3 linked regions of the Homo sapiens genome follow. The protein of the gene in region 2 purifies or fractionates together with the protein of the main gene of each other region. This does not show direct contact. Each region holds a gene or a part of one and is shown on either strand. Other genes may lie near its edges.

Region 1 (7,023 bases), on a different chromosome or scaffold from region 2:
TTTGACAAGATAGGGATTCATACACAGCCCCTGATATCCAAAGCCCTTCAAAACGTATTATCTACATGGATAAATACTTCCTGGAGAGGGAAAAAAGGTAATCACCAATTTAATAATTTGGGGGTGGGAACAATTTTAATATACAAATATAAACAAAGTTCTCAATGCTCCAACTTCAGGGGTACAACAAGCCTAAAACATTTTTTTTCTTTAACATATCCAAAAAAGAAGTATATGGCCCAAGCCTATAAGCTTCCTTAAGTGACAAATACACTAAATTCAAATTCACTGAAATAATTATCTGGTAAAATGGCCAGGCATAGAAAGACCAAAGCAAAAACCAGTGTACTAACCTAGTTCAGTAGCTATGTAACTAATGTTTTTCTTATGGTGTGCAAATCTTTTGATAGTGAAATTTCTCTTTCACTATTATGTTTATATAGTTGACTTTTCAGATGCTCTAAAACACACAAATCAAAAGCACAGACAAGAAAAAACACACCATTATATTTCATAAAAAAAACATAAGAAACAATAGGGGGGTCTTTACCTTATTGTACATTAGACCCTCACTTTGAATTTTCAGGAAAGTAGAACTTTTTCAAAAGACTAATATCTAAAAGCAAAAGCAATTTGGCATGTTTTAACCAACATTAAATATTTTACATATATTATAAACACACACACAAACACACATACATGTATACATACAAATAAAAAGGGTTTTGGTTTTTTTTTTACCTAAATGCAAACTGGATGAGGATCCATGTGATGAAAGTGATGGCGGTGGCGTAAGTGAATGTCCTGGAGTTTGGCTTGGCAGAGGCATGCCTATTGGACTTGGAGAGGAGGAAAATCCCAGACTATTGTAAAATGGTTGCCCTATGGGTGCTAGGCTGCTACTAGATCTTTTGTACAAGTCAGAGCTAGTAGATAGAGACTCTCTCCTTGTGGCACTACTACTTGCAGAACTGCCAACTGAAGAAGAAATAAAAAAAACCCTAATTACATACAGTGTTAACTGAATAAAATCTATCCCCAACTCTCGCTGGGCAATAACAGAAGTGATCACAATAATTATTTTTAGAAACATTTTGGAGAAGATAATTACTGTGATAACTATATATACTAACTTATTAATCATAAAAGGGTATAAATGCACCCCAATAAAGAACCAAATACTTAACAGAGCAGTCATATGATTCATTATTTCACACATATTTACCACTGACACATCTGATTACTGTGCTTTAATACCCTGGTATGATTTATAAACCCTGGAATTGCAAGTTGTCTGCATTAGGACATGCTAGAGATTAAATTCCATTAAGTTTAAATTCTGATAGTATCCTAATCTCTGAAACCTGCTTCTTAGACTTTAACTCAATGCCAAGAAAAGATTATATGAATAAATAATTAGTACATTTCCTTCACCATTCATATTTAATTTGTCATCTAGCTGTGTTCAAAACATAGCCCTTTAAGTCCATATTGGCCCGAATATTGATCAGTTGTGAAATACAGTGAGCAGCTAACTCAACAGTATTTTTTACACTACGCATTCTCCCTTGTTCTTTAACTACATTACAAAGTAACTCGACTTTTCTAAAATTAATAGCTCTCACTGTTATCAAACCAAAGACATACTTTCACTTATCCCACAGGACTCTTCTACTCCTAAGATGCTAGTACTACTGCCTCCTGAGCCCCTTACTCAAGGCTGATCAGGTTTTTGTCATTTGATAATACACAATTTCTCTTACTTTACATCCCTTAATACAATGCATACCAAATTTTTACTTAATATCAAATGTAACTATTATCCTTCTAATCCTTTTTCCTTTTATAGTGCAGAAAATAAAGGTCATGTAGGCCCTGGTGAGCTATACATGCTCAGAAGAGCTAATCAAGATCTGGCTGTTAATCAACACCTGTCTGGATAATCAAATTCCACAGCATGCATCTCTAAGGGCTGTCCAAACTCTCAGTTCTCAAGTCTCACTTAAAGCCCATATATTCAAGTACGTTTCCTTCCTATTTCTAAGCACTAGCCTCTTTTAACTGAATAACTTTTACATCTAAGAAAATTTCAAACCACATTTCTGAACCTGCCAAATACATTTTTAAATGACAAGCTCTATATTCGGACCAATATGGCAATGCTTTTCAAGGGATCTAAGTTTCTATTAAATCTTATTTAAGCACAAGTCATATATAAATAGGTCATACAGGGTATAAAGAAAAAAATTAAGGAGAGTACATCATGGGTAGACCAAGGTAAGAGTATAATACAGACGGAAAACTTAATTACGTTGGTTTTGCCAAATTCAAAATTCTATAAAGGGGTAAAAAAACCAGGCTTATGCTACCACATTAGGCAAAAGATTATAATGCTATTCAACCTTTTATACCAGCCAATGCAGTTTCTGAGACTGATCATGTTTTGTTGAAGATTTTACATTTTAAGATATCATAGTAAGAAAATACTAGGTGTCTATATGCATTTTTATTGCAAAAGTGAATTATAAGCACATGTAATAAACAGTTATTCTTGAGTTGGTTTTGGTAAAACTGGCAATGTATGCTACATTAACTATGCTAATTTAAAAGGACACTGTCAAAGTGATTTTTCTAAAATATGGCTACATTTTAAATTCCTATTTATTTCAGAAAACAATTTAACTGACAATGAAAAGACAACAGCTCTAATAAGAGCAGCATTATTCCCCTGACAAATAATCCAAGAAACCAGTTTTGACACATGCAATATTATTTTCCTCCAAAAAGGAAAAGTCAAGCCAAACATTTAAAAATAATTCAGAAATAACCTTAAATATAAAGAAGCTGGCTCTTTAAGTTTTACTATATGTCTAAATTATCTCCAACAGTATGACTATGAGATATGAAACAAAGTGTACCTAAAATATCTAAGAGGGTAGACAGACTGCTAATCATTCATCGACTGTGAAAAAAGGCTAAATTATAAACTTTCAATTGTAACAACACTTTAAAAAATAACAGGTCATAGAAAAGATGATTTAAATTATATGTTACGATGTTTAGGCTTCTTGGCCAACTATATCATAAAATGGGGTATTTAACACTGTTAAACATTAATAATTTCATCATAGAGGTAAGAGAAGGACTGTGTATGTTACTTGTATATGTGTATACAGGCACACAACCATATTATGTTTTAGAGCTCATGTAAGTATGTAATTGCCATAATGTGAAAAGGCAGTGTGCAAACTTGTAAGAGTCCATATATATAGCACTTGAAAAAACTCCCACAAAATGCCCAAGAGGAGAGATACGATGGACTCTTTACTGGCATTCAGGGGTGGCAATCACTAATGCTCTCTAAAGCAAGGTAAAATGAAGCTCTTACAGATTGGAGTCAGAATTAAGTAAGCCATGCTTGTAAATAATGGAGGTGTGAAGGTTAGTTTTGGGGAAACAGGGCATCTGTAGTGGACAAAATGTTCATGTCAATCAATTCCTGAAAGGGGGAAAACAGCCTTAACTAAGAAACAAATGGAAATTTGAAAGAATTGAGTAGGGGCCTAGAAATCTGAACCAGACGATCAGTGACATACTACGTGAGAAAGGAAACATGGGGTTTAATCAATGCTCTCTTTTTTCTGAATTATTTAGGGCCTACAATTTATAATTTAAAAACTATTTCCACAAGTTTGTTTTTTATGTTACTTGTTCTTCCAGTTTTCCTCAGAATATTTAGGATTCTTTGGAGAAAATGTCCCAATTGTGTTAGAAACAAGGAATGAGTCCTATGGGAGTGCGTGAGGTGGACAAAGAGATACACAACTCCAAAAGCAATGAAAAAACTCAAGTACAAAATTGAAAAGATTTAACAATCCCCATGTTCACTGGATTTTCCCTCAGAAATTCTTATGAGCAGTCTTCAGATAATTTTGTGTCAGTCCAATATGACATCCACTTATTGTATTTCATTACAATAAATGAAAAAAGATTCTGCCATCTAAAAGTTTGTGGCTGTTCTAGACCATCCTTCCTGTATATATGAATGATAAAAGTTCAGAAGACACTCCCTTAGAAAACTGGCAAGCATTGTTAATAATGCCTGGCATGTGTTAGTTCTGCCATTTTCCACACCAGAAAAGAATATAATTTGATGTGGTAAGAAAAGAGATCAGAAACAGATATTAAGGACTGTAGCAAGTTATGTTATAGAAACAGAAAATCTCTTGAGGTCCAAATAGTCCTATCCTCATGAAGTAAAAGCTGCCAGCTGCACCGATAGAACTGGGTCAGCTGTTTTTTCCCTAATGTTTCCTGAGTACTGTGGAAACCTCACAGAAAACACCAAGTGTATCAACAAGAAGTCAACGTGGGCCTCTTCTGATTTCACTTAGTTCTTCCTCTACCACAGGATCCAGGAACCAGTTTGAGTGGGTCAATTATTTAGTGAAGCTATTTAAAATTTTGATTTGTTAAGTGTTATATAAAGCTAAGATACATGAATAGATACCCTTTTAAGTGAATTTTTAGTGACAAAGGCTAACTTATTTAATCTAAAAGATAACCATACTGGTAGCTTCTTAGGGGATTCTGTGTAGAACATTTCAGTATTTATACATACACATATGTATTTTTTATATTAGGCCAAATTTAAAAACTGTAATAAACTACCAGCATTTAATAAGAATAAACCATCTAATAAGGACACAAAGATAACTGCTTTAAAATACCAAAAATTTAAGACGGCAAAATATTTGCCTCCACAAACATTATGTAGTGAATGAAGATGAGCTAATAATTAGTGAATAATATATTGACCCAAATAAACCCTACTAAAACAAAAATTACAGTAATCAATTCCTAGAGCCAGGGAAAAAGGAAATGTATTATATATGAGTAAAGAACAGGCTGCCTATAGTGAGTTAAACATTGGTGAGTGTTGAAAAGATTTGCAGGATTTTTTTTTCCTACAAATTAAACCAGTAGTCCAATACTTTATTCCTGTCCTTCCTATCCTACATGCTATTATTGCTTATTTTAATGTTAAACACACTCATATACCTCTTCCACTTAGCAGAGTACACTCATCGTAAAAACAAACTTACCTGATGAACCAAATCCACTGAGGGCTGAGCCTATAGCAGCACCCAAAGAGTTACCACTTCCAAAGCCAAGAGATGTACTTCCAGGTTGACCAGGTCCATGAGAAAATAAAGAACTACTCTGGGAGCTATTAGTCAAAGAACTGCTTCCATAAAATGAATTAGATTGCAGATTAGTGCTTGGCTGCTGTTGCTGCTGCTGTGGTGGCTGAGTGCCAATTGGCCGAAACAGACCATTTGTGCTGCCTGTAAGGCTACTTGCAGTTCCTCCAGCTGCTGCTGCTGCTGCTGTAAAATAAATTTCAGATACTTCTTTAAACCACCCAGAAAATTCTGTATTTTAAAAATGGTATCTCAACACCAGAAAAATATTATCCTAAAAATGTCAGTTACACTTACCAGCTTGTGCTGCTGCTGAACTAATTAAAACAGGTGTTGGAGCCATTAACCGAACTGGAGCTCCAAGGCCAGTCCTTGCTCCAGGGCCAACCACTAAGGCACCAGTCTGATCATAATAGGCAGTTGGAGCTAGTACTTGATAGCCTAAATAAAATAAAGGTTTACTAATGAAAGCACTTATTACAAAAACATGCATATTTGTTTTTCCCTGCATTTGTATTTTTTCAACTAGACAACACAGCTATTTGTACCATTACTATAAAATCCTTAGTTAATATATGCAAAGCAACACATTTGACAAGGTCTTACTAAATATATGAAAAAGTAATAGACTGTCATTAAACATTTTTTCTCTAAATTTTACTCAGGGGCCACAAAATGAAGAGGTATTTTCCTTAATATAGAAACTACAGGCTATGAAGGAAGGGCTGATATTAGAAAAAAAAAATCACCATTTAGCCCTTCGAAGAAGAAGGATTAAAAAAACTGGGAGTAGCGAGGTAGAACACTGTACGAAATGTTTACTGTGCAATTTCATTGAAGTTCAAAATCAAGTGCCTCATTACCAGCATTCCGTTAGATTTTCATTTGTAATCATCTCTTTAAAAACTTAAGCCAAACATTCTATTTGTGAAGATTCTCAAGCTAGAGTTTAATTAAAAATCACACAGGCTTTAGTTTTATTGTAGCCTTAAGCACAAGGTAGGTAATCTTCACAAATAGTGGAGAATAAAGTTAACTTCTTAGCAGCCTTTCTCAATGGAGATTCTCTGTTGAACCAAAAACACAGAAAATGATTTAAGTAAGTATTTTGTTAATTCTCCTAAGGATGGTATATAACAAGCATCACTCTGGAATCACAGGAGAGAAGTTAGCTATATACACTGTGGATACTTCAGAGCAGTAATAAGGCTTTATTCTTTTCTGGAACTCAGTTTAGAAAGGCTGCCTTATAAAGCGACAAAAAACTGAGGCCCAATAACCTTACAACTATCAGCAAAACATGCATTGGCAACTTTTTTTTCCCTTAAAGAGTGCTGTCTTGCTCTGTTGTCTAGGCTGGAGCACAGTGGCATAATCATAGCTCACTGCTGCCTCAAACTCCTGGGCTTACATGATCCTCCCGCCTCAGCATCCTAAGTGGCTGGGACTACAGGTACATGCCACCAGGTCCGGATAATTTATTTTTATTTTCTACAGAAATAGGGCCTCACTATGTTGCCTAGCCTAGTCTTTAACTCCTGGGCCAGCGATCCTCCCGCCTCAGCCTCCCAACTGTGTCTGGTCCTTTAAGAAGTTTTTAAAAACACAGACTATACTGAAATACATTCCAACATCAATTTTTAAGTCTTATTTTGTTAATACTATGCAGAAGTGAGAGTTACAGTAAAATTAGTGATAATGCAGCATGAACATTTTATTGCCTTTAAACACAGTAGGCTAAATTCAGCTCAAATATAATAAACAGTGCTCAGATAAACACTTCACCTGTAAGACACACATGCATAGGTTGTTTTTAGTA
Region 2 (7,869 bases):
CTCTGTCCTCCTGAGTTCAAGCTATTCTCCTGCCTCAGCCTCCTGAGTAACTGGGATTACAAGTGCACGGCACCACACCCAGCTAATTTTTGTATTTTTTAGTAGAGACGGGGTTTTGCCATGTTGGCCAGGCTGGTCTCGAACTCCTGAGCTCAGGTGATCTGCCTGCCTCGGCCTCCCAAAGTGCTGGGATTACAGGCATGAGCCAGTGACCGAAAATATTTAATGTCCTCTTCCTCTGTAATGTTTCCTAACTACCTGCTTCTAAACAAATGGCTGCAGATGTATATAAAAGAAATGATCGGCCGGGCACGGTGGCTCACGCCTGTAATCCCAGCATTTGGGGAGGCCGAGGCGGGCGGATCATGAGGTCAGGAGATCAAGACCATCCTGGCTAACATGGTGAAACCCTGTCTCTACTAAAAATACAAAAAATTAGCCGGGTGTGGTGGTAGACGCCTGTAGTCCCAGCTACTCGGGAGGCTGAGGCAGGAGAACGGCGTGAACCCGAGAGGCGGAGCTTGCAGTCAGCCAAGATTGCACCACTGCACTCCAGCCTGCGCAACGGAGCAAGACTCTGTCTCAAAAAAAAAAAAAAAAGAAAAAAAAAAGAAAAGAAATGATCTGGTCTTTGTGCTGCCATGGATGCATTTTGCCTCTTCTATGATTTGTAGGCGTTTAACTCTCCTCTTTCTCCTTAAATACATAATGCTTGTTTCCAGGGCAGGGTCCAATTTTTCTTTGTTCTGCCTGGTCATTCAGACATTTCTATACTGCATTGCTCTGTTTCTAAGGGACTTGAGCGTTACCTGAATAACAAAAATTTGAGTCACTGGCAGCCCCGATCTCAAATCTCATTTCTTGCTGGGTCAGGGGACAGCCCAGGAAGATCTAACATCATTAAGATTTCAGTAGTTTGGCAAGGCAAGCAGGGAAGGGAGAATTCTCTTTTTTTGGAGAGAGAGTCTCACTCTGTAGCCCAGGCTGGAATGCAGTGGCGCGATATCGGCTCACTGCAACCTCTGCCTTCCAGATTCAAGCAATTCTACTGGCTCAGCCTCTTGAGTAGCTGGGATTACAGGCAGCTGTCACCACACCTGGCTAAATTTTTTGTATTTTTAGTAGAAATGGGGTTTCACCATTTTGCCCAGTCTGGTCTTGAACTCCTGACCTCAAGTGATCTGCCCGCTTCGGCCTCCTAAAGTGCTGGGATTACAGGTGTGAGCCACCATGCCCAGTTGGGAAGGGAGAATTCTTATGCTACCAGTTCAATAAGTAAAAATTTCAGAAGACCAACTGCTGATGTCCCTAGGTTAAAGAAAAAAAAAAAAAAGACAAAACCCGCTGTTGTTTCATAGGCCACCAGGAAATATCCTGGTTATCCCTCAAAGCCATACTGCTTGGTTGAACAGGATCAGGTTGTGGGGTACTGCCAAGTGGAAACCGCTGACTTAGGTTGGGGCTAATTCAGCACAAGAACAAGCTTGTAGGCACTTGGACTTCCACCTTGGTGGTCCAAATAATAATACTAAGAGATGTGTCAGGGCTGGGCGTGGTGGCTCACGCCTGTAATCCCAGCACTTTGGGAGGCTGAGGCGGGAGGATCAGTTGAGGCCAAGAGTTTGAGACCAGCCTGACCAACATGGTGAAACCCTGTCTCTGCTAAAAATACACAAAGTTAGCTGGGCATGGTGGTGCGTGACTCTAATCCCAGCTACTTGGCAGGCTGAGGCAGGAGAATCGCTTGAATCTGGGAGGCGGGGGTTGCAGTGAGCTGAGATTGGGCCACTGCACTCCAGCCTGGGAGACAGTGAGATCCTGTCTCAAAAAAAAGAAGAAGAAGAAGAAGAAAGAAGAAGAAAGAAGAAAGAAGAAAGAAGAAAGAAGAAAGAAGAAAGAAGAAGAAGAAGAAGAAGTTGTTTAAGGCTTCTCTTTCCAAGGCCCCTGGTTAAGCTTACTGTATCACTAACCAAATTAGTTGATGAATAATTACCACCTATTAAGCAGTTACTATGTTAGGCACTGTGCTAAGTGTTTACTTTTGTCCCATTTAATCCTTAGAACAACACTGTGACTATTATTGTTATCCTACAAATGAGGAATGGAAGGCTTAGTGAAACAAAGTAATTTGCCCAGCATAGTGGTTGCACCAAGGGGTTACTGGGGTGCTTTGCTTGCCGCATGTGAATCTCTAGCAGCCCCACTCAAGTCACCTTACATAATTAAAAAAAACCCAATAATAATGATAATGATATTCTTTGATCTTGACAATGAATGTTTTTTCACTCTCATTTAAAATGTGAATAAAGGTCAGGCCTGGTGGTTCATGCCTGTAATCCCAGTACTTCGGGAGGCCAAAGGGGGGGAATCACTTGAGGTCAGGAGTTCGAGACCAGCCTGGCCAACATGGTGAAACCCTGTCTCTACTAAAAATACAAAAAATTAGCCGGGCGTGGTGGTGGGCGCCTGTAATCACAGCTCCTTGGGAAGTTGAGGCACAAGAATTGCTTGAACCCAGGAGGTGGAGGTTGCAGTGAGCCGAGATCACACCACTGCACTCCAGTCTGGGTGACAGAGCGAGACTCCATCTGAAAAAAAAAAAGTGAATAAAGTGATAATGGTACTACTAATAAGCTATTATTAGTTAGCTATAAGTGTTAGCTGTAACACTTATGGAGCGCTTATCCTAAATCATTCCGTTCAAAGTTCTAAACGTGATAACATTAAATTCTTACAATAATCTTTTCAGGAAGGTATTATTGTTATCCTAATTTGCAGATGAAGAAACTGAGACACAGAGGGGGTAAGTAGCTGTCACAAGGCATCATGACTTGCAGGTGGCAGAGCTAAAACTCTGCTATTTTTACTGATTTATAACACAGCCTAAGTAATACAAACAATATGCTCAATACAACAACTCACCTTCAAGGCAAGTCCTCCCGACTTCCCTTCCAACCAGTCTGCAATCCCCAAACACCTTTTATATGGAAGTTCTTAGTCACCACTGGTCCCAGATTACGTGGGCAGGAGGTGGGAAGCCTGCGTTCTCATCTGGGTTGGTCTGACTCTGAAGCAGGGATCTTTACTGTTGTACTGTTCCAGCCCCAGCCAGGTTAAACCCAGGTTCAAAGGCCAAATCACACACTGGTTGGAAATGACCTTGGAAATCATCTAACCCAGCGTTTCTCAACCTCCGCACTATTGACATTTGGGGTTGGATAACTCTCCTGGGGGGACCGTCCTGTGCATGATAGGATGTCAAGCAACATTCCTGGCTTCTACACACTAGATGCCAGCAGCACCTCCCCACTGTAACAATCAAAAATGCCTTCAGTCGGCCAGGCGCGGCAGCTAACTCCTGTAATCTCAGCACTTTGGGAGGCCGAGGCAGGCGGATCACCTGAAGTCAGGAGTTCGAGACCAGCCTGGCCAACATGGTGAAACCCCATCTCTACTAAAAATACAAAAATTAGTTGGTGGCGCACACCTGTAGTCCCAGCTACTGGGGAGGCTGAGGCAGGAGAATCGCTTGAACCCAGGAGGCAGAGGTTGCAGTCAGCCGAGATCGCGCCACTGCACTTAAGCCTGGGCGACAGAGCGAGACTCTGTCTCAAAAAAAAAAAAAAAAAAAAAAAAAAAAATGCCTTCAGTCACTGACAAATGTGGGAGTGGAGGTGGTGGAATGGCAAAATTTCTCCTTGGTTGAAAGCCACTGATCCAAACCATCTCATTTTACAAATGATGGAGCTGAGGTCCAAAGAGATGAAGTAACTTGTTTAAGCTAGTTAGCAAAGCCAAGATTAGAATCCAGGTTATTCACGCAATATCCTTTTATTTCTATAACGTACAGGGCACGATATGGAACTCAGAGGAAGTCACTGCAGTCCTTGTCCTCACAGTCTGGTAGGGGAGAGAATCTATTGCACAGATATCTCTATCTCCACGAAGTTGGTAAGTCATAAAGTGCTCCTCAGGCAGCAAGGTACGAAGAAAGAGAATATGTTCTCGTGTTCTGAATTCCGGATCTGCCACTTTTTTGCTGCAGGATTTAACTAAGGTTCAGTTTCATCATCAATGAAATGGAGATCATGGTATCTACTTATATCACCAGTTTGAAACGGGTCTGTGGATGCATTGTGCAAACTCTAAAGCTCTTACAAACATCGGGTATTATTACTAACTTCATTAGGAATGTGAGTTATATTAGAGTAAAAGCTCTCAGAACTGGGGTGAACCATAGAGGGGTGGCTTCATTCCTCGACCTTCCAATTTGAGACATTTTTTCTTCTGCGGGAGGGGAAGCAGGCAAATAGCCTGCCTCTCACAGAGTGCCCATTCCCTCTCCGGGAACCAAGGTGCTCAGGCGAGTAAACTCAGGACTTAACTCTGTACAACTAGTACCGCAAGCAGGAGCCACTCCCTGGCCTTCGGGTCTCTCAAGCCCCGCCTGCTCCAGGATACGGCCCCGCCCAGAAAGGAGACAGACCCCGCCCCCCCCGCGCTGCCCCGCACTCCAGCCGCGCTGTGCCTCCAGGACAATCCCAGGCCCGTGCCGGAGATTCCCGAGCTTCCCCGATCGCTTCCCGGCCTCCCTCGGGCAGCCAGCGAGGAGACTACGGAGATTGCCGAGGGGGCCTGGCCCCGCCCCCCCCGCGGGCCGCCACCGCCCCCCTCGCCGTAGCCTCCCGCGCGGGCTGGAGTTCTACATCCCGGTCCCTCCCTCCCTCCCTCTTTCTCTCTCCCCGCCTTCCCGGTGCTGCCACAGTGGCGGGTCGGAGGATCCCGGCCAGTCAGCTCGTTCCTGCCTCGCGCCCCTCCTCCCCCCAAAATAAACAGCCCTCCCCACGCCTCGGGAGCCCGGACCGCCCCCTTCCTCCCTCGGCCGGCGTGCTGTGAGGGAGAGTGTGAGCCAGCGCGGCCGGTGGGCGAGCTCCGGGAGTGCGAGAGGCGGGGCGGCGCGGCGGGCCGGGCCGGGTTTCGCGTGTGCGTGCGGGGGCGCGAGCGAGTGCTCATCACGACCCGCCAGTGGCCCCGCGCCGACAACCCGGCGGGCGGGCGGGCGGGGAGCAAGCGGTCAGGCAAGGAGCGGCGGCCGCGAGGCGCGGAGGGGCGCGGAGTCCGCTCGCGCGCACGCACGCACGCACGCGGGGGCGGGGGCAGGCGCGCGCCCGCCTGTCGCGACAGTCGGGGCCGAGGCCCAGGGGGAGGTGGCCTGTCGCGGGTCGCCCGGCTCCCGGAGGCGAGGGGGGCGCGGGCGGATGGCGGAGGGCGCCCAGCCGCATCAGCCGCCTCAGCTCGGGCCCGGCGCCGCCGCCCGGGGCATGAAGCGGGAGTCGGAGCTGGAGCTGCCGGTGCCCGGAGCGGGAGGAGACGGAGCCGATCCCGGCCTGAGCAAGCGGCCGCGCACTGAGGAGGCGGCGGCCGACGGTGGCGGCGGGATGCAGGTGACCGCGCGGGACGGGGCGCCCAGTTATTGCGGGGGTGGGCGTGAGGGTCGACACCGGGCTCCCCGGCTTGGAGAGAGGGAGGGCCTCCGGGAGTCCTGGGTTGGAGGTGGGATGGGGGGCCATTCGGGGCCTGGTTGGAAGGTGGGGCGAGCTCGGGCTAGGAACGAAGGTTGCAGGACTGAACCTGGTGTGCCCGAGAGGGTCCTGATTCCTGAGGGGCCAGGAGGCACGACGAGTGGATAGGTTTTGGGGGGAAATCGAACAAGGTTGAGATGGATTCCATTTTTTCAAATCCTTCCTTAGTGCCTTGGGGTGGAGTGGAAGCCGGGAAATCCTGGCTTCTCTGGACTGAGTCGAGGAAAAGGAGATCTGGTGGGAAACCTCCCGAGAAGAGGGAGTACCTTTTGGCAGCCCTGGGCACACGCTGGGATGGGGAAGAGAAGTGGCATTTCAATGAGAGGAGTGAAAAGAAAACTCCTCGAGAGAGCCCCGAGGGGATGTGGCTGAGATTGTGGGTTAAATCACACAGAGTGTGAGAAGTACAAGGAGTTTGGTAATGTTATGGGGACACGGTGGTGCTCAGTCTCATTTACTTTGTGGAGCATACTAATGAGTCTGAAGGGAGACACTAGACATGTCCCTCCTGTTCTTTGCCAATTGCATTCTACATCACCAGGACACAAAATAGCTCTTTAATGTCCCGGGCTATAAAAAAAATTTTTTTATAGGGCTATTAGAAGACTGGATTCTCAATTCTGGATTGAAAGATAAACGTGGTTAATTTGGGTAGGGAATGGGAAAGGTATTGATGTCAGCTGACTTCATAGTTTTGAAGAAGACCTTGAAACCTTTGGAGGTTTTACGATTTGGTCTTTGCCCAGAAAATACTGCTATGACATGATGAGTCTCACCTACCAACAGTTGTGCAGACTTGTGCCTAATTCTCTCGGAGTCATAGGATGTTAGAGGGATGCTAGGAGGACTAGACATCATCTTTTCCAGGGGTTCTTAACCTGGGAAGACTTGGAAGATTCTTACTCATAGTAGGTGATGTGCACTTTTTGGTGGAGGAGAGTCAATAGTTTTCATCTTTGTTTTTTTTGGAGGAGATTCAAGTCCCAGCTTGTTTTAACCACCTTATTTTATAGATGGGGAATCAGAAGTCCAGAGAAGATGGTGACTTGGGTAAGGCCACCCAGTTAGCTAATAGTAAAACTAGAACTAGAAGCCTGGTCTTCTAATTCCTATTCCTGTGCTGTCTCCATTACACCACTCTTGGAAATCTCTGCAGTGCTAAAAGACTTCCTGTGCTCTGCTCCCTGCTTTTCAAGCCTCTGCCTGACTTCCTGTGTTAGGGACAGAGCTGTACTTAAGCCTAGCATGTTTGTTGTATGCTTCTTGGTCTCCTTTGCAGAGTTTACCCTGTTACTTCTGTTGATTTAGGTAAAGTGACCCTCTTGGTGTTTATTTTTGAATTCTTTTGTTTTGTTTGCCTGCTTTTATTTTCCATTAGAACTCTGTCAGGCAGAGGGATTGTGAGAAGTAAAAGCTCAGGGCCATGGCAAAAAAGACAGGAATGTGGGAGACTTCAGGTGAGGTGAGCTAATATTGGATGATAAGGAGGGAAGACTGGATGTAGGTGCTGGTGAGCAGGTTCTACTTGGTGTGTGTGTGTGTGTGTGTGTGTGTGTGTGTATGTATTCATTTATCATTTCTGTCAATCCTAGTTAATAGTGAGACCCCCGTCCCTTTCCCTCATTTACTCCTGGGGCCTATTATCTGTTGGTTGCCTTCAAACTGGCTAAAGATAGTGATATTTGGAAATGGAGCAGTGTGTAGGGACTTCGCAGGGGTGTGCAGAGGAAAGAGTGGTTAGGTCCTTGGGGGTACAAATTGGCAGCTGAGAGTTATCCCTCCGAGAATCCTTTTTTCACTTCTTGTATTTTATTTTCTTTCTATACATTCTCTTTTTTTTTTTTTTGCCCAGGCTGGAGTGCAATGGCACGATCTCGGCTCACTGCAACCTCCACCTCCACCTCCACCTCTGGGTTCAAGGGATTCTCCTGCCTCAGCTTCCTGAGTAGATGGGATTACAGGCGTCTGCCACCATGCCCAGCTAATTTTTCTTATTTTTAGTAGAGAGGGGGTTTCACCAGGTTGGCCAGGCTGGTCTCGAACTCCTGACCTCAGGTGATTCACCCACCTCAGCCTCCCAAAATGTTGGGATTACAGGTGTGAGCCACCACACCCGGCCTTCTATACATTCCCATTGTTGTAGGTCCATTCCCCTATGTCATACAGGTATTCAAATCATTGATTTAGGCCCTGCCTTCAACTAGCTGAATGGTTCTGCAGAAATCTTTCATTTTGGGGCCTCTGTTTTCCTTAGTTGTAAAATAAAGTATGTGTACAAGATGATTTC
Region 3 (7,147 bases), on a different chromosome or scaffold from region 2:
CGATTGACTAATATGTCAAGTATCTTACTTAAAGATATTTTGAGGCTAGGCATGGTGACTCAAGCCTGTAATCCCAACACTGGGAGGCAGAGGCAGGCAGATCACTTGAGACCAGGAGTTCGAGACCAGCCTGGCCAACACAGCAAAACCCCGTCTCTACAAAAAACACAAAACTTAGCTAGGCATCATGGTGGTGCATGCCTGTAATCCCAGCTACTCGGGAGGCTGAGGCAGGAGAATCGCTTGAACCCGGGAGGCGGAAGTTGCAGTGAGCTGAGATCGTGCCACTGCACTCCAGCCTGGGAAACAGAGCAAGACAATGTCTCTAAAAAAAAAAAAAAAAAAATATATATATATATATATATATTTATATATATATATATATATATATTTATATATATATATACACACACACATATATATACACACACATATATACACACATATATACACATATATACACACACATATATACATATATGCACATATATACACACACATATATACATATATATGCACATATACACACACATATATATAGAGAGAGAGAGAGAGAGAAAGAGAGAGACTATCATCTCAATATAAACTTTCCATACAAACGGCAAGTTTTTTAAAAATATAAAATGTTAAGTGTTACAATTCAACTATTTTCTTCCCTTGGATAGTTTCATATAACTGGCAAATTAAACAGGTTTCCACTTTCAAGCCTCAAACCTTGGTAACAGTAAAGTTTACAAGGAGCCCAAATAAGATTTTTTTCCCCTTTTGTGTAAAAGGCCAGATAGAAGATATTTCGGTCTTTGTGGACTACTGAAATCTGTCACATATTACTATTTTTGTTTTACAATCCTTTAAAAATGTAAACCATTCTTGGCTGGTGGGCCGCCTTGGGCCTGCAGTAGTTTTCAGACCCTAGTATCACCACCTAGAGTGCTTGTAAAATGCAAATTCCTGGTCCCACTTCAGGCCTATTATTAATACATCAAATGACACGGATTGGGTCATTCTTCTGCACGCTAATTTCAAAGCCATAAGAAGTCAACATATAGCTAATAAAGGTTATATATAAGGTAAACTGATACTATTAACTTTAAGAACTTATTACCAGAGGCAAATGCTCTATTTCAGGCCTACATTCTCATGTATATTTTTTATGCAACCACGAAAATGTCATTTTCAAACTTTCTATACAAATGGCAAGCTTTTCAGACATTAAATACTAATCTTCAACATTTCATGTGTTTCTGGTTCACTGTTTCAAATGGTCTTTATACTCAATTTTTACTAGAGGCTCATTAGTTTTCTTTTGCTTCCCCTTCCTAAAACCAATACGGTGATGTGTACATAAATCTTAAATGTTTAACACACTTCCTGTTGCTTCCTAATACACGTACAGTATTTATTTATTTTACATGGAGTCTCACTCTGTTGCTCAAGATGAAGTGCAATGGCACGATCTCGGCTCACTGCAACCTCCGCCTCCCAGGTTCAAGCCATTCTCCTGCCTCAGGCTCCCGAGTAGCTGGGATTACAGGCGCCCGCCACCATGCCCCGCTAATTTCTTGTATTTTTAGTAGAGACGGGGTTTTGCAATGTTGGCCAGGCTGGTCTTGAACTCCTAACTTCAGGTGATCCACCTGCCTCAGCCTCCCAAAGTGCTAGGATTACAGGCGTGTGAGCCACCACGCCCGGCCAGTATTAATCTTTTCTTTCCCCCTTAAACCATGCAATCTCAAATGGGATTACCACCTCCATCTGTCCTCATTTTCCACCTCCCCAGGAGTTTAAGATTAGTGCCTGACAGATCTATGTTAGTGTATGAAGATACAATGTATGTAAAGTTTTCACAAGTCCCTGATAAAATTCACCTGGAATGCTTGTCGGACATATAGGTTCTTCCACTCCACCCACCCCTCTCCTGATTGTGATTTGGGAGGACTGGGGTGAGGCCTGGGACATAAAATCCATACAAACTCTTCAGGTGATCCTTGAGATTAGGCAATGGCTCCGCCACATTAGAGCCTCGATTATTTACCACTGACTATCCCACGTGTTGATAAACAATGTTTCTTATCAGCAATCAGGTGGATTCGAGGCACCCATCTAACCAAGTCAGAAATTGGAAGGAATGAAGTTTTGAACAAAAGAGGAGGAAAATTTTCAAAGCCAAATGCACATCAGATTCTTAAACAGGTGAGGAATTTCTCTCTTCTCTCTCAAATTAGAAATGAATTACTGTGATGCAAAAATCAGCAATACTGATCAACCATACGCTTCACACTTCTACTCGGAAGGTTCGGCAGTTTTCTTTCCAAATCAACCGGAAACGAAATCTTCCACTGTCTCAATTCAACAATAAAGCCTCTCCTACGACTTTGCCAGACACAAAGTGATACCTTCCATCAGACTTCGTCCTCCCTTAGATCACAAGCTAAAGAAGGCGACTGGTTGTAATGGAACACAACCTTTATAATTAGATGGAAAAAGAATAAAAACCGCCATTCTGCCAGCTGTACTAACTTCTTCACTTCAGAAACTGGCTCAACAGTTTCCACTCGCGATTATGAAGTGTGGCACGCAATGAACCCTCAGCTTAGTTCCCCTTCCAGTCACGTCCTTCCCAATGGGAAAGGAGAAAGCGCAGGCTCGCGGGGGGCTGGGCTGGGCAAGGGGAGCGAGAAGCGAGGACTGGACGGAGGCGAGAGAGGAGAGAGAAGGGGCAGGTAAGGTGAAGGGGGTGAGCTGGGGCCAGCACAAGAGGCCCAGACGGCCTCCGCCCCCGAGGATACACGGCCAGAGCTCAGGGACCAAGAGGCGAGAAGACCAGAGCGCGGCGGCTATTACCTGCGTCCGAGGAGCTGCGGCGGGGTTAGGACCGCAGTGAGCTCCTCGCAGCTGCGGCCGCCCACCGACGCACCCCACGCCTGGCCGCAGCCCCAGCCTCTCTGCGCCCAGCCTCGCCACGCCATCTTCCCAACCTCTGCCCCACCATGGCCCGACCTTACCAACCCCAGCTGCGCAACTACTTCCGGGGCGAAGGCAACACCATAGAGCACGAGGAGCAGTCTAGAGCGCCCCCGCGCGGCTGAGCGGCAGCCGAACCAGCCACGGTGCCCGGACGACTGGCTGGCGCCCTTCTGTCCCACCGCTTCCCCTCCCACTGCTCAGCTGGCTCCGGGAGCGACCTGCGAGAGTGGCCCGGCCTCCCGGCATTTGCAGATGAGGAGGATGGGGCCAGAGCGAAGAGGGACAACTGTCATTTTTTCGAGTAACGGCACATACCAGGCGCTTTGCCTAAGATCGCATTTAATCGTCACAGCACTGCTAGAGGTAGATGTCATCACTGTTTCACTTTGCCTCTGGTCAGAGGGGATAGGACTTGCCCGGAGTTGCAGGGCTGGTCCCTAGAGGAACCAACGTGGCAAGCCAAGTTTTCTTAAATTACTACTTTTTTCTGCATCTCACCACTTCGTGTTATTCTGTATGCCTTTAACAAAGTCCAAGCCTATCGGGCGGGGTGGCTCACCCCTTTAATCCCAGCACTTTGGGAGGCCGAGGCCGGCGGATCACCTGAGGTCAGGAGTTCGATACCAGCCCGGCCAACATGGTGAAACCCCGTCTCTACTAAAAATACAAAAATTAGCCGGGCATGGTGGCAGGGGCCTGTAATCCCAGCTACTCAGTTGGCTGAGGCAGGAGTATTGCTTGAACCTGGGAGGCGGAGGTTGCAGTGAGCCGAGATTGGACCACTGCACTCCAGCCTAGGTGACAGAGCGAGATCCGTCTCAAAAAAATTACAAATACAAATACAAAAATTAGCTGGGCGTGGTGGCGCAAACCTGTAATCCCAGCTACTCGAGAGGCTGAGGTGGGAGAATCACTTGAACTCGGGAGGTTGCAGTGAGCCGATATCGTGCCAGCCTGGGCAACAGAGTGAGACCCTTTCTCATAAATAAATAAGTAAATAAACACAAAATCCAAGCCTGAAATGAAAAGCGGGCTTTCACTTTTTCATAATCCATCCCTCAACTACCTGTCAGTTAGCTTGATTCCCTGCCATTCCATTCCCCCCGACCCTAGCTGCAGCCATACAGTCATTGGCCATTACTCAAAGGCACCATCCGCGTTCCCACTGCTGAGCATTCATGCTACCGTTCTCACCACTTGAAACATCTAACCGACTTGTCCTTCAGGTCAGCCTCAAGTGTCACCTCTTCCAGGAGGCCTTTCCCAGACCTCCACTCCAATTTAGATTCCCTTCCTTTGTACTCACATACCGCTTTATGCTTATCTCTGCAATAGCACTTCATTCATTCCATAAGCTCTTATTAAGCACCTACAGTGTGTCAGGTGATATGTTAAACCTGGGGATACAATTGAGAAGACACTATATCTGACCTCACAAAGATTCTATTGTATTGGGGGAGAAGGCTCTGTAGGAGTCTAGAGAGGGGGGATATAGCCCAATTGAAGGAAGGGGCATGGGAGGCTCAGGGAGAAGGCTTCCCAGAGAAACTGATAGAGGTCACCAAGAGAAGAGGATTGAAGTGTTCCTCAGAAAGAATAGCATTTGTGATGTCTCCCAGCGCACGACTTGTTTGAAAAACTAAAATAAATTCACGCCTTTTCCACACAACCCAGAGAGGGGCCCATACGGCATTGTTCTAGATTCTCTGTGGGCGGCAAGCCATCCAGGTGCCGAGGCAAGAGACCAAGGGCACGAGCTGTTCCAGTATAATAAAATATATAAAACAACAAGAGTTATACTAGATCTAGATCATAGACGTGATTATATATGAATATCATTAATCATCAGTTTGTAGCAATTATTCTTTATTCCAATATTATAATAATCCTCGCTCTATAATCATAACCTAGGAAAAACCGGGCCATACAGAGGCAGGAGCTGAGGGGACATAGTGAGGAGTGACCAAAAGACAAGAGTGCGAGCCTTCTATTATGCCCAGACAGGGCCACCAGAGGGCTCCTTGGTCTAGGGGTAATGCCAGCGTCTGGGAAGATGCCCGTTGCCAAGCAGACTGTGGTCTAGCGGTAGCATGTCAAGGAAAAACACCTGCTACTTAGTAGTCCCTGGGGGAGTTTAGAGAAGACTCTACTCCTCCACCTCTTGTGGAGGGCCTGACATTAGTCAGGCTTTCCCGCAGTTATCCGGAGGCCTAACCGTCTCCCTGTGATGCTGTGCTTCAGTGGTCACGCTCCTAGTCTGCCTTCGTGTTCCATCCTGTACACCTGGCTCTGCCTTCTAGATAGCAGTAGCAAATTAGTGAAAGTACTAAAAGTCTCTCATAATGGTGTAAGTTGTTTCTCTCTTTGTCTCCTCTCTCTCTCTGCCTCGGCTGCCAGGCAGGGAAGGGCCCCCGTCCAGTGGACACGTGACCCACGTGGCCTTACCTATCATTGGAGATGGCTCACTCTCCTTATCCTGCCCCTTTGTCTTGTATCCAATAAATATCAGTGCAGCCTGGCATTTGGGGCCACTACCGGTCTCCGTGTCTTGGTGGTAGTGGTCCCCCGGGCACAGCTGTCTTTTCTTTTATCTCTTTGTCTTGTGTCTTTATTTCTACGCTCTCTCGTCTCTGCATGTGGGGAGAGACCCACCGACCCTGTGGGGCTGGTCCCTACAATTCTCATTGTAACTTAAAGGGAAACTTTCACAATGTCTAGAGCCCTTGATGTCCTGCAAATGAAGGAGGAGGATGTCCTTAAGTTCCTTGCAGCAGGAACCCACTTAGGTGGTACCAACCTTGACTTCCAAATGGAGTAGCACATCTGTAAGAAGAAAAGTGATGGCGTCTACATCCTACATCTGAAGAGGACCTGGGAGAAGCAAGAAGTTTCTGCTGGCAGCTCGTGCCATCGCTGCCTTTAAAAACCCTGTTGATGTCAGTGTCATGTCCTCTAGCAATACTGGCCAGAGGGCTGTGCTGAAGTTTGCTGCTGCCACTGGAGCCACTCAAATTGTTGGCCGCTTCACTCCTGGAACCTTCACTAGCCAGACCCAGGCAGCCTTCAGGGAGCCACGGCTTCTAGTGGTTACTGATCCCAGGGCTGACCACCAGCCTCTCACAGAGACATCTTATGTTAACCTACCTACCATTGCTCTATGTCACACAGATTTTCCTCTGCGCTATGTGGACATTGCCATCACATGCAACAACAAGGGAGCTCCCTCAGTGGGTCCGAGCTGGTGGATGCTGGCCCTGGAAGTTCTGCGCGTGTGTGGCACCATTTCCCTCGAACACCCATGGGAGGTCATGCCTGATCTCTACTTCTACAGAGATCCTGAAGAGATTGGAAAAGAGGAGCAGGTTGCTGCTGAAAAGACTGTGACCAAGGAGGAATTTCAGGGCAAATGGACTGCTCCAGCTCCTGAGTTCACCGCTATTCAGCCTGAGGTTGGAGACTGGTCTGATGGTGTACAGGTGCCCTCTGTGCCTATTCATCAGGTCCCTACTGAAGACTGGAGTGCTCAGCCTGCCACAGAAGACTGGTCTGCAGCTCCCACTGCTCAGGCCACTGAATGGGTAGAAACAACCACTGAATGGTCTTAAGCTGTTCTTGCACAGGCTCTTAAGCAACATGGAAATAACGTTGATGGAAAATACACATCAGTTTCTAAAAAATAAATTCACTTTGGTTATATCAGAGGTGTCAAGTCTGGGATTTGATTTTACCCTATTTGCAAGCTAAAAGATTGGATGTTGGCAAAAGACAGGAGACTCCTGGGTCAGAGACAAAACACTTTATATTACCACGGCATGTTCTCCAAGTCCCATGGTGGCAATGCCATGAGCCAAATGGATGAAGAACATGCAGTGGATTTGCATCTCAACCAAAGAATACTGAGCCTGGGGAATCTACTGTTTAATAGTGAGTTTTTATAGTAAACAAGCGAACAATCTTGAAAGGTAGAGATGTTTTCCTCAAGAGCAAAGGGCAGTTGGCTTATAACCTTGGAAGAAAGATAATATCACCCTAGAGAGCACAGGCTTGTGTGCTGCCTATCATAAAAGATTCTAATGCCATGACGGGGCATAGGGGCTCATGCCTGTAATCCCAGTATTTTGGGAGGCCGAGGTGGGTGGATCACTTGAGGCAAGGAGTTCAACGCCAGCCTGGCCAACAT

The links.
Region 1: the proteins of RBFOX2 (region 2) and PUM2 purify together in Homo sapiens (affinity purification with mass spectrometry; 3 studies listed by BioGRID and IntAct, with this or other methods). This does not show direct contact.
Region 3: the proteins of RBFOX2 (region 2) and PARL purify together in Homo sapiens (affinity purification with mass spectrometry; 3 studies listed by BioGRID and IntAct, with this or other methods). This does not show direct contact.

The regions. Positions count from the first base shown.
Region 1 is NC_000002.12:20,277,842-20,284,864, forward strand, and holds part of PUM2 (pumilio homolog 2), read right to left. Parts: intron 5,646-7,023; coding exon 5,502-5,645; intron 5,391-5,501; coding exon 5,106-5,390; intron 979-5,105; coding exon 742-978; intron 617-741; coding exon of another isoform or gene 570-616; exon of another isoform or gene 461-569; coding exon of another isoform or gene 366-460; exon of another isoform or gene 1-365. UniProt on the Homo sapiens protein: Sequence-specific RNA-binding protein that acts as a post-transcriptional repressor by binding the 3'-UTR of mRNA targets.
Region 2 is NC_000022.11:36,025,815-36,033,683, reverse strand, and holds the start of RBFOX2 (RNA binding protein fox-1 homolog 2), read left to right. Parts: upstream 1-4,859; 5' UTR 4,860-5,258; coding exon 5,259-5,444; intron 5,445-6,600; exon of another isoform or gene 6,601-6,620; coding exon of another isoform or gene 6,621-6,632; intron 6,633-7,869. UniProt on the Homo sapiens protein: RNA-binding protein that regulates alternative splicing events by binding to 5'-UGCAUGU-3' elements. Prevents binding of U2AF2 to the 3'-splice site.
Region 3 is NC_000003.12:183,881,878-183,889,024, forward strand, and holds the start of PARL (presenilin-associated rhomboid-like protein, mitochondrial isoform 1 precursor), read right to left. Parts: upstream 3,004-7,147; 5' UTR 2,970-3,003; coding exon 2,845-2,969; intron 1-2,844. UniProt on the Homo sapiens protein: Required for the control of apoptosis during postnatal growth. Essential for proteolytic processing of an antiapoptotic form of OPA1 which prevents the release of mitochondrial cytochrome c in response to intrinsic apoptotic signals.